2 separate regions of the Homo sapiens genome follow, and region 1 is linked to region 2. Evidence: fine-mapped expression QTL. Tissue or cell type: whole blood. Region 2 holds a variant in brackets; the other region holds the start of a gene. All regions are shown on one strand. Distances are from middle to middle.

Evidence for each region. PIP is the estimated chance that this variant, and not a neighbour inherited with it, causes the effect.
Region 1: SH3YL1 starts here. The variant in region 2 is fine-mapped to the expression of SH3YL1 in whole blood (INTERVAL, PIP 0.98).

What each region holds. Positions count from the first base shown.
Region 1 is chr2:261,187-266,331 of GRCh38, reverse strand. SH3YL1 (SH3 and SYLF domain containing 1) reads left to right here and starts at 2,300. Exons shown (of 10, transcript NM_015677.4): 1 at 2,300-2,348. The coding sequence starts at 2,348. It overlaps ACP1 (acid phosphatase 1), which reads right to left and starts at 1,385. Exons shown (of 6, transcript NM_004300.4): 1 at 1,325-1,385. The coding sequence starts at 1,367. RefSeq lists an enhancer at 1,275-1,324 and silencers at 1,675-1,754, 1,825-2,404.
Region 2 is chr2:197,278-202,422 of GRCh38, reverse strand. No RefSeq gene overlaps it. Among named protein-coding and RNA genes, the nearest start is that of SH3YL1, 64 kb to the left of the region's middle. RefSeq lists an enhancer at 3,622-4,821. The variant C/A (reference allele first, on the strand shown) is at 2,921.

The sequences.
Region 1 (5,145 bases), 64 kb before region 2:
TAAAAATCAAATGATGCCCACTACCAATGTGAAACAAGGTAAGCCTTCTAATTCGTCTTTCACAGAAGTTAACTTCTACAAAACCTAGTCAGCGTTTATCATATATTGTCCTAAAGCTGAAAACAAAATGAAAAATAAGCCACAGTTATTGCCATCGACAAAATTAAACTCAGCTGGGATTTCAACAGACTATCAAATAATTATAGTAAAATTTGTGTAATAAAAGATGTCGATAAGGAATCACACCTTTTCTGTATTACATCTTTTACTATATTACACAAATTATAGTAAAATTTGTGTAATAAAAGATGTCGATAAGGAAGCAACTCATGATCTGGGAAAGCAAAGGAGGAAATATTTAGGTTTGACTTTATAAAATAAAAAGGCTTTCCAGGCAAAATGCATAATGGGCACCCAGCGATGAAGGCTCAGTAAGCATGTGAAGTGCTACCGAACAACGAAAGGTTCTGGAAGGCAGTGTCCCGAGGGTGTGAGCAGGAAAAGGTACAGGAGATAAAGTGAGGAGTCTGTAAAAATAAACAGAAACTGCAGGAAATGCAAACTCACAGAAGGTTTTAAGTAACCGGACTACTGACAATTTAGGCCTTCCTCTCAGGGTGGAGGCACCGAGGAATATAACCTTGTAGTGCTACACCAAAGGAAGATCCCTGAAGACCAAACGGAAAATAAATTATGTTTGAAGTAAGGCAAGCTAAGTGTTGAAATTCTAGGAGTGAAAATAATTTAAGCTGGAAAGTTCCTGAAAAGCCATTAATAAAATACACTTTCATTTTTCATGGGCCAAAGTTATATAGGGACCTCCAGGTCTCCTTTGCTTGGCTTTTACAATCAAGAAACCCGAAACCGTAAAACTTCATCTCCCTTTAACTCAGATCCCTATCTAAGCATGGGCTAAGGAAACTAGCAAACAAAACAATGTTGTCATAGGACTCAGGAGGCCCCTAAGAGACCACATCAGTCCGACAACCTCCAGGCCTACCTGGGCCCATTGGAGGGGAACGAGAGGGATTCTAGTAGTCGCAAAGAAAGTACCTTGGCTTGTAGGGGCTGTGGCTGCAGATGCCAAGAGCCCCGGATATATGGCAGGCGCGAGGGGACCCAGGTTTAGCGGGCAGGCTGGGCGGGTGCACGGGGCGGATGGGGAACAGGGGCGCTGCGGCACACTCCTAGAACACCCTAGGCCTCCCAGTCCCTGGCCTCCTCCCCCTCATGGTTCCTAGGCCGGCGGCACAACCTACAGCGCACAAGCCCGATCCAACTCTCCAGAGGACGTCAGAACATGAGTAAGTCGGCGCCCTCTTACCCAGACACACAAACAGCACGGACTTGGTAGCCTGTTCCGCCATCTTCCCGCGCGCAGAGGCGCCGAGACACCGCGGCGTTCCGCACGCCGACGCGGCGCAGGCGCACTGCCACCCTCTTGCCCCGCGCGCCTGCGCAGTCCCGCACCAACGCCAACAGGGCAGCGCGTGTGAGAGCCACGCCTGCGCAATCGGCTCCAGTGCGCCTGCGGAGGCGGTCCTATGACGGTAGTAGGACGGGCGGGGAGGGTCCGCGGGTCACCTGCAGGGACTGGGCCGCCGTTCACCTGCAGGGGCGGGGCTGCAGGTTGTCCGGAGGAGGAGGAGCTGCGGGGGTGGGGTCACCTGGAGGGAGTAGGGCCGCGGAAGGCGAGGGGGTGTGTGTGTGTGGTGGCGGGGGTTGGCGGGGGGGAGTCACCTGGAGGGGGCGGGGCTGCGGGTCGCTTGGAGGGGAAGGAGCCGCGGGAGGTAAAGGTTACCTATAGGGGACGGGGCCGCAGGAGAGGGGTACCTGGAGGAGGAAGGGCCGCGGGTCACCTGCAGGGCGGGCTCAGGCCTCGCGGCTCCGCGGGCCGCCCACCTGGGTTGGGGCACAGCGCGAGTCTCGCGCACGTGGCGGGCTGTGGTGCCTGTCGTTCGAGTTCGCATAGAGGGGCTGGGCGGGTCACGCGGGGAACCTGCCTTGAGCCCCGCGGGGTCCACGCCGGACCAGGGCGGCCTTGGGCCTGGGCGCTCCCTGAGACCCCCACCCCCAACACCGTGCTTGGAGCCGCCGCGGGGCTCTGGGCTTTTCGATCTTGAGGACGGGGCGGTTCCGAAGTCCCTGAGGGCGAAGGCCTGAGCGCGGCCCGGCGGGCGCGTGGTTTTTGTCCCGCGAAACGTACACGGCGGGTGTTTTGCGCCGCCTCCTTCGTCACCTGCCGCAGGTACGCCCTCGCTGGGGCCTCCTTGTCCGCGGGGCGGGGCAGCGCGCCTTCCTCTTCCTGGGCAGCCTCGGGACGGGGCGCCGCGGCCGGGCGGGCAGCAGTGAGTACCCGGGGACCCACCTGTCCGGCAGCACCCTCCCCTCTCAAGAGCTGGGCGGTGGTGGGAGGAGGAGGACGGGAAAACCGGCGATGCCTCTGGGGTTTCTAGGTCGCGCGTCTGTTAACCGCAAACCGCCCAAAGTTAAGATAGAGCAGCTTCCAGGACTTTCTTGACCACAGCGATTTTGATTGAAGTTTAGCCACCGTCTTTTCCATTTTTAGAAAAGCTATTCCGAAGTTTGGAATGATGACGATGGTCGTGTTATTTTTAACTTCCTGATATTTGAACGGCGAGGTGTCAGCGACCATCCTTCCGTTCCACAGAAGCGTCTCTGAAGTTTGGGTCGAATGCGCGCGCTTGGAATGTGCGTGGAACCCGCGGCAGGCGCGGGGAGGAGGCCTTGGCTAGGGCGCCGGCGAGGTTCGAGTTTGCCAGCCCCCCAACCTGGAAGAGAAGGGCCAGCCCCTCACACCCGGAAGGGAAGGGCCGGTCCCCCCAACACCTGGCGCCGGGGTCGCGGGGCCACAGGGCGAGCGCGGGGTCGCGGCGAGCACGGGTCCTCTCTGATCGCTGGGCCTTGGCGCTGGCTGCTGAGTTTTTCCTTCTTTAAGGAAGTGTGGAACTGGTCTCAATCGGTTGACCACCTTAAGGAAATAGGATTTACACTGTGGACAGAGATGTGTCCTTTACACTTCATTTGAACCAATATGCCCATGCTCCTGTGGAGGCTGAGTTGGAAAGTGACACGAAGCTGCCCCCCCGCAAGAGAGCAGGTGCTCGGTTTCTCTTCTGCTTACAGGAGATGCATGTCCTGATTTCTTGTTCTCCTAGGTGTTTTTATTGAGATGTAGGGAATATCTGAATTCATAACGACTTAGAAAATCTGTACACACAGTTGAGAGAACAGGTCTCGAGGCTAAGGTGCTGTTTACTCCCGTGGGCTGGCCTGTTATTAAAATACTTGTGCAGCGACTGATGTTTACAAATTACTATGTTGGAGGTTAAAATGATCAAAGTGATAACCTCCATCCTGTCTATCATGTTTGAGGAGAATTGGTTATTTGGTTCACTAATGTTCTGTTTAAAGAAAATTTCTGTAAAACTAGTAAATGTTACCCCTCATCTTTTGTAAGTTAAAAAAAAGTTTAAAATAATGTTTGCTCATCAAAAGTGATTTGATACTTTTGTTCTGTTTAGGAAAACTTTATTCTCAAGAGATTTCTCATTCCGCAGAAATAAGGATCTGGCATGTCAACACAAACATAGGAAGTTGAGGCAGTCAAAGGGAAATAACTGCTACCCTGACTCTGCTGAGAGCCTCACAAGTCCCTGTGCACGCCAGCTTGTTTGCCAGTGAGTGGCGTCATGATAAGACAAAATTCTCTGCTCTGAGACCTAAGCACATGAAGTTTTTAAAAAAATTTTCTCTGAGAAGATCCCATTTTTTACTCTAAAAGATCAGACCAGTGTGGCATGTGTGGAACTGCTCTGTACCAAGATCACACTCTTCAGTTGGAGAAGAGGAAGGGCAGGAATAAATAAAGGGCTTTCCTGTCTCCCGAGGGAGCAGAGAAAGCTTTCGCTGTCCTCTTCCTTCCCCAGCCACAGCCTGGGGTTGGGGGACTGGAAACAAGCTCAGGCTAGCACTTGATGTTCAGACGGTAGTCTGAAAGTTTGACTAGGGAGTTAATGATCTGACCAGAGAGACAGGTTTTTATTTTGAGAACTGACAAGCTTTGTGTCCTTAAAACAAAGGAAGTAGTTAAACCAAGGCCCCAGAAAGGTAAGAATTGACTTAAGAAACAAAGGCCATAGTTGTCAAGCAGTGGAGTTCAAAATGCAGTTTTGTTAATAAAAGTAGCTTAAAGCAACATTTGAAAGCCTCTCTAAAGATTAGATACATACACTTTCTTTTGGCTAAGATTTCTTTAGTTTATTCTAAATATACCTTTAGCAGCATTCAAGTTCCTTTGATCTTAGATGGAATTTTATCAGTTTAATGAGTTAACCTCCATTTCACATAAAGTATAAGGTTTAATAATTTGATTAATATGTAATCAGTAAGAACTTGGAAAACCAAATTTAGTAAGCTTGCTTTCCTGTAAGTATTCCTTTCATAATTAGAGTCCATTGAAGAAAATAATATAAGGGAAGCAAAAGTTTGGGAATCTGAACTCTGGTAAGGAAAGTGGTGGAGAGGGGCCCTTGGGTCTTCTTGCTTTCATTCCTGACCCTCCGTGTACAACTAGATTGGAAACCGTAGTCAGCTTTGTCACCTCAGGTGGCAATTTACTCCGAGTAGGATTCTCATGTCCCTGTTTGTCCCCAGTGACTCTAGCATTGAGTTTATAGAACTGCGATCAATACCTAAAATTATTTCCAGATCTTAAGCTGATTTATGCTTTTGAGGTTTCCAAAGTAAAAATTGTCTTTCCGGTATTTTATAAGACCTTCTAATTTAAAAAAAAAATGTGTTACTATGAAAATTTAAAACATTTTAACTTTTGTTTTAAAGAAAACTTTATTTGAAAGTTTCTTAGCTTGAGGTTTGGCAGCCACTCTTTTTTTAGAAAAAACTTAAATATTTATAGAGATTTTGCCTGATTCAAGGGACTTAAGACGTTTATGAGAGTGCAGATGCTAACCATGATGTGAGGTTTAAGAGGCTTCATTAGTAATGACCTGTGTCTTCATCAGTATGATAGAATGGGACATCAGCACTCTGATCAGGTCATGCTCTATATGCCTTATGGTACAGCAGAGGAAAAATGGGTGAGCCATCATTTGATGCTGAGGA
Region 2 (5,145 bases):
TTGTAAAATGTACACGAGCCCTATATTCTAGTTAGTAAAAATAACAAAAAGTACACCATCGCACTTGAATTTTGTGTATAAGTCACTTTTTGAAATGCGTATATTTAAAGTGTTGCTTGAAAATTCCTTTAAGGCCTGAGTCCATGGCACTTGGCATCCAGAGGGGCCCAGGGCATTCACAGCACACAGGACTAAGCTCGCAGAGCTTGGCTGGGCCACTGTTGTGTTTGGCTTTTCTGTGTGTTTTTGCATGAGCGTTTACATTATTTCATAATTGTGTTTTTGTTATCACAGCAGTGAAAACAAAGCTGTCTTCAGACTCAAGTTCTTGTGGGACTAAATCAGCAAAGGACAGAAGGTGGAAACTGAGGAAGATGTTGCTGGAGGCGGGGCCCTTCCAGTGGAGTTAGCCAGGGTCACCTGCGGAGCCCTGCAGGTCCCAGGCTGCTGTGCTCATGTACTGAATAGTATTTCTGGGAAGGCTACCCAGACTTTGATGCAGCTTTCAAACAAAAAGTTAACAGTCTTGAGTGGCTTCTCTGTTTTCTCAGTGCACCTGTTCCTCGATCAGGTAGTGCTGCTGGCTCAGGCCCCGACTGCCTCTGGTTCCACACAAGAAAGCTGGCATTCCTCTTGAGTGAAGTCCCAAGTGCAGACAAATTTAGTAGCAAACAGACTGATCTCAAAAACTCCTACTGGTCACAGAATAATGACTTGTTTGAATTAAGAAGAAATGATTCAAGAACTCAGTTAAAAGCAATAATAATTTTATATAATGATTTTACATGAGTTTAAAATGGTGAACCTTTTTCTTTAACCTTTAAAAATATCCATGCTTTCATTTAAGTCAAATAATAAACATATTACACGTGTGCTTCAGGCCTCCTGGTTTACCTGGTACTTTCCACACCATTCTCTCACTTAATCCTCCATGAACATCCATACATAACCTGGATGTTCATTTGCTCTCACTTTATCCTTGCAAAACCATCTGGAATTTCTCCCCTGGTGCTTCCAAGGAGATCATAATTATAACGTAGATCCTGGAAAAGACACCTCCCAACGAGGTGACATTTGTGACCCCTTGGATCAAGGTCAGCCCTTACAGTATGCTATTTAAGTACTGAAACACAGTTTCCTGCAAAACCTTCCAAGTCAATATACACATCTGTTGCTTCAAATCATTTAAACCGCCCTGTAAATGTAGCCAAATGTCCTGTTTTAGTGGGCTCTGGCTTGCCCCCAGCAGGGGTGGCTGCAGTAGTTAGTTGGGGTCCCCTTGGTCCAGGTTTTTAATTTGCAGCAGTATTGGAAGGGTTATTTAATATAGGAGTTTTAAATACTATAGACAGCAGAATGAGGACGGTGTTATTGTGCAAATATTACTGGTGAAGAAACTTGGTTAATTCCCACCATCACACCCCTAGGAAGTGACAGAATCACAGCTCTAAACAGGTGGGTGTTCTGCTTCCAAACCCAGGGCTCTCGGATCAGCCATGAGAACATGAGGAGTTCAGCTCTTCCCAGCCATGACTCCCAATCACCTACCCGCAGGGGCCTTTGATAATAATCCTCCAAGTCCTGAGCGTGAAGTAATTTCTATATTTGCACATGAATTTTAGGTCAAGTGGTATAATAGGATTCGCAGGGTGGTCAAACGCCAGAGCTGGAGCTCGGCTGTCGGGGCTGGACCCTGGATCTGCTGCTACCAGCTCCCTGACCTTGTCTGAGTGGCTGCCGTCTTTGAATTTCAGGTTTCTCAAATGTCTAATGGCATAAAACAAGATAATGCATAGAGGTGGTCTTGTGGGGTGCTGGGCCCATAGTGAATGCTCCCTATGCATCATTGAAGGCGATTCTTACTACTCTTGTCACGTAACACTTCAAACTTGCACTGGTGGTTTGCATGCAATTGACATGTAAAAGCACATCTGATTGCTTGGATCGTAGCTGAAGTCAAGTCCTGGTGCTTTTTTTGGCCTTTGCCGCTGTCTAGCATGGTCCTCAGTAGATGTTTGCATTATGGAATATGAAACCAGGAGCCCACTGAGTGTCCTACAGGCTGTTAGTTCCGGAGTTGCTGTACCAGGTGATTTCTTGGATACTTCTTGGTTCTAACTTCAGTTTCATGTTTATTGAAGACTGGCCAGACACTTAGTCCTTTAAAGCTGCTCCACTCAATCTGAACCTACCTTTAACGCACTGTATTTCCCATGCCTGCCTCCACTCTGTATCTCCCACCAGATAGCAATCAACTCCCTGAAAAGACAAAAACTGTGTCACGGTGTCTTCAGAGCTGAGCCTGCTAACTGGTGTGTCGTAAGCACTAAAATACACTTTTATTGAATAAATGCCGTTGACAAATGGAAGTTAGGTAAGCCTTCTAATTCCCATTTTGTTTCACCTATGTATATATTAAGACCACTGTATATTAAAAGTCTAATACAAAAATCTACTATGTTAAATGATAATATAATAATCTATTCCATCAATATAAGTACCATATTTATTGAATACCTACTGTTTGCCAGTCAAGGCTATGCCAATGAAGCAGAGAATTAAAAAGATAAACCGCTGCCTTGTGCAGTGGTGTGCGGACTGTCGAGGAGACGGACAGAAGCAGTGGTTACCGTGCTGGCGTGAGCCAGAAGTTTCCTGCCCTCTTGTCACTTCTGGGGTCTAGAAAAGTAGCACAAAAATGCATTATGCAAATGCAATATTTGGTGAAACTCACTAGGTGACATTATACTAAGAAATAAAACCAAAGCTCATCTTGGTTTCAGTTAGGCCTCAGCCCCGCTGAAGTCTCGCCGGTATTTTTCTGCCCTGGATACAGTGGAGACAGGCTTCAGCCACCTCACAAGCTTGCTGGACAACGGGCTTTTCTTCCTCTGTCTTCTTCAGGACTGTGAGTGCCTGA[C/A]GGGCAGGAGCTGCACCCGTCACCTTGCTGTCCTCGCTGTTACCACAGGGCCACATCAGTGAACACAGGCTCTACTGAGGCGGCAGCCTCCCCGTAGCTTGTATTCTTGCAAAGAAGTTGAAAACCAAATCAATGCAGTCACAAGACACAGATACATATGGATGCAAATTTGCTGAACTCAGGAACGACCACCAGATTGGCAGGGCTAATTCACCCTCAGTGTTTTGTATTTTTTCCCTAATTATTCTAAAATGATCCTGTTGCTTTATTCCCACAGAACAAGCACTGGCAGACGAGGAACACTATCCCCAGCAGGCCTCGGCTGCCGGCAACGCACCCCTGCCCTCAGAAAGACAGCCTTGCTCTGAATTTATTTTCATAATTACATGAACGTTATCTAAAAAAAACAAAGGACGTGGGAAAGAATAAAGCTTAAAATAAACTTTAAGCTGTGGGAATGCAGGGGGCCAGGCTGGAGAACAGAGAAAGCCAGAGTGAGCTCAGTGTCTCTGTGCTGATCTACTTGGCCAGCAAGAAGGCTGCATACAACAGAGATCTGTGTCCACCAGCCAGAAGTTCAGGACTCAGACACACAATATGCTGACTTTATTCTAGAGCTAATTCATTCCAAAGTATGAGAAACATAGAGAAAAGCCAGCAACTGTTAGCCACACAGGTAGTAACGTTTCTTTCTTAAAGACTAGAGTTATATTTCTTCTATTGTGGTACAACCTCATTGTTTTTACGGCCATATTATCATTTTATTCAGGAATGTTGAAATGCTCTGAAATATCACTTAGTCATTAAAATGTTGATTACTACAACTAAATGACAACATAGAAAAGTGCTTATGATATATCATTTAGAGAAAATTTAGGATACACGACCTTACAAGCACTATGACAGGAGCTGAGTAAAAGTAGACTACGTCAAGAGGCCGGAAAGGAAGACAGAAGGGAAAAGGCCCCGCGCGTCTCCGTGTCAACAGGCCGGAAAGGCAGACAGAAGGGAAAAGGCCCCGCGCGTCTCCACGTCAACAGGCCGGAAAGGCAGACAGAAGGGAAAAGGCCCCGCGCGTCTCCACGTCAACAGGCCGGAAAGGCAGACAGAAGGGAAAAGGCCCCGCGCGTCTCCACGTCAACAGGCCGGAAAGGCAGACAGAAGGGAAAAGGCCCCGCGCGTCTCCACGTCAACAGGCCGGAAAGGCAGACAGAAGGGAAAAGGCCCCGCGCGTCTCCACGTCAACAGGCCGGAAAGGCAGACAGAAGGGAAAAGGCCCCGCGCGTCTCCACGTCAACAGGCCGGAAAGGCAGACAGAAGGGAAAACGCCCCGCGCGTCTCCACGTCAACAGGCCGGAAAGGCAGACAGAAGGGAAAACGCCCCGCGCGTCTCCACGTCAACAGGCCGGAAAGGCAGACAGAAGGGAAAAGGCCCCGCGCGTCTCCACGTCAACAGGCCGGAAAGGCAGACAGAAGGGAAAAGGCCCCGCGCGTCTCCACGTCAACAGGCCGGAAAGGCAGACAGAAGGGAAAAGGCCCCGCGCGTCTCCACGTCAACAGGCCGGAAAGGCAGACAGAAGGGAAAAGGCCCCGCGCGTCTCCACGTCAACAGGCCGGAAAGGCAGACAGAAGGGAAAAGGCCCCGCGCGTCTCCACGTCAACAGGCCGGAAAGGCAGACAGAAGGGAAAACGCCCCGCGCGTCTCCACGTCAACAGGCCGGAAAGGCAGACAGAAGGGAAAAGGCCCCGCGCGTCTCCACGTCAACAGGCCGGAAAGGCAGACAGAAGGGAAAAGGCCCCGCGCGTCTCCACGTCAACAGGCCGGAAAGGCAGACAGAAGGGAAAAGGCCCCGCGCGTTTCCACGTCAACAGGCCGGAAAGGCAGACAGAAGGGAAAAGGCTCCGCGCGTTTCCATGTCAACAGGCCGGAAAGGAAGACAGAAGGGAAAACGCTCCGCGTGTTTCCATGTCAAGAGGCCGGAAAGGCAGACAGAAGGGAAAAGGCCCCGCGCGTTTCTGTGTCCAGAGGCCGGAAAGGCAGACAGAAGGGAAAAGGCCCTGCGCGTTTCTGTGTTCTGTTACGGGGCTGGGGTGTGCAGTCAGGGTTTTCCTTTCCAACACTTTATATCATGGCTTATTTTCTTAATATTAGTAAAAACACATTAAAAATGAGTTCAAGTAGAAATTAATAGAGTAAGAATACATAACCTGGATGTTCATTTGCT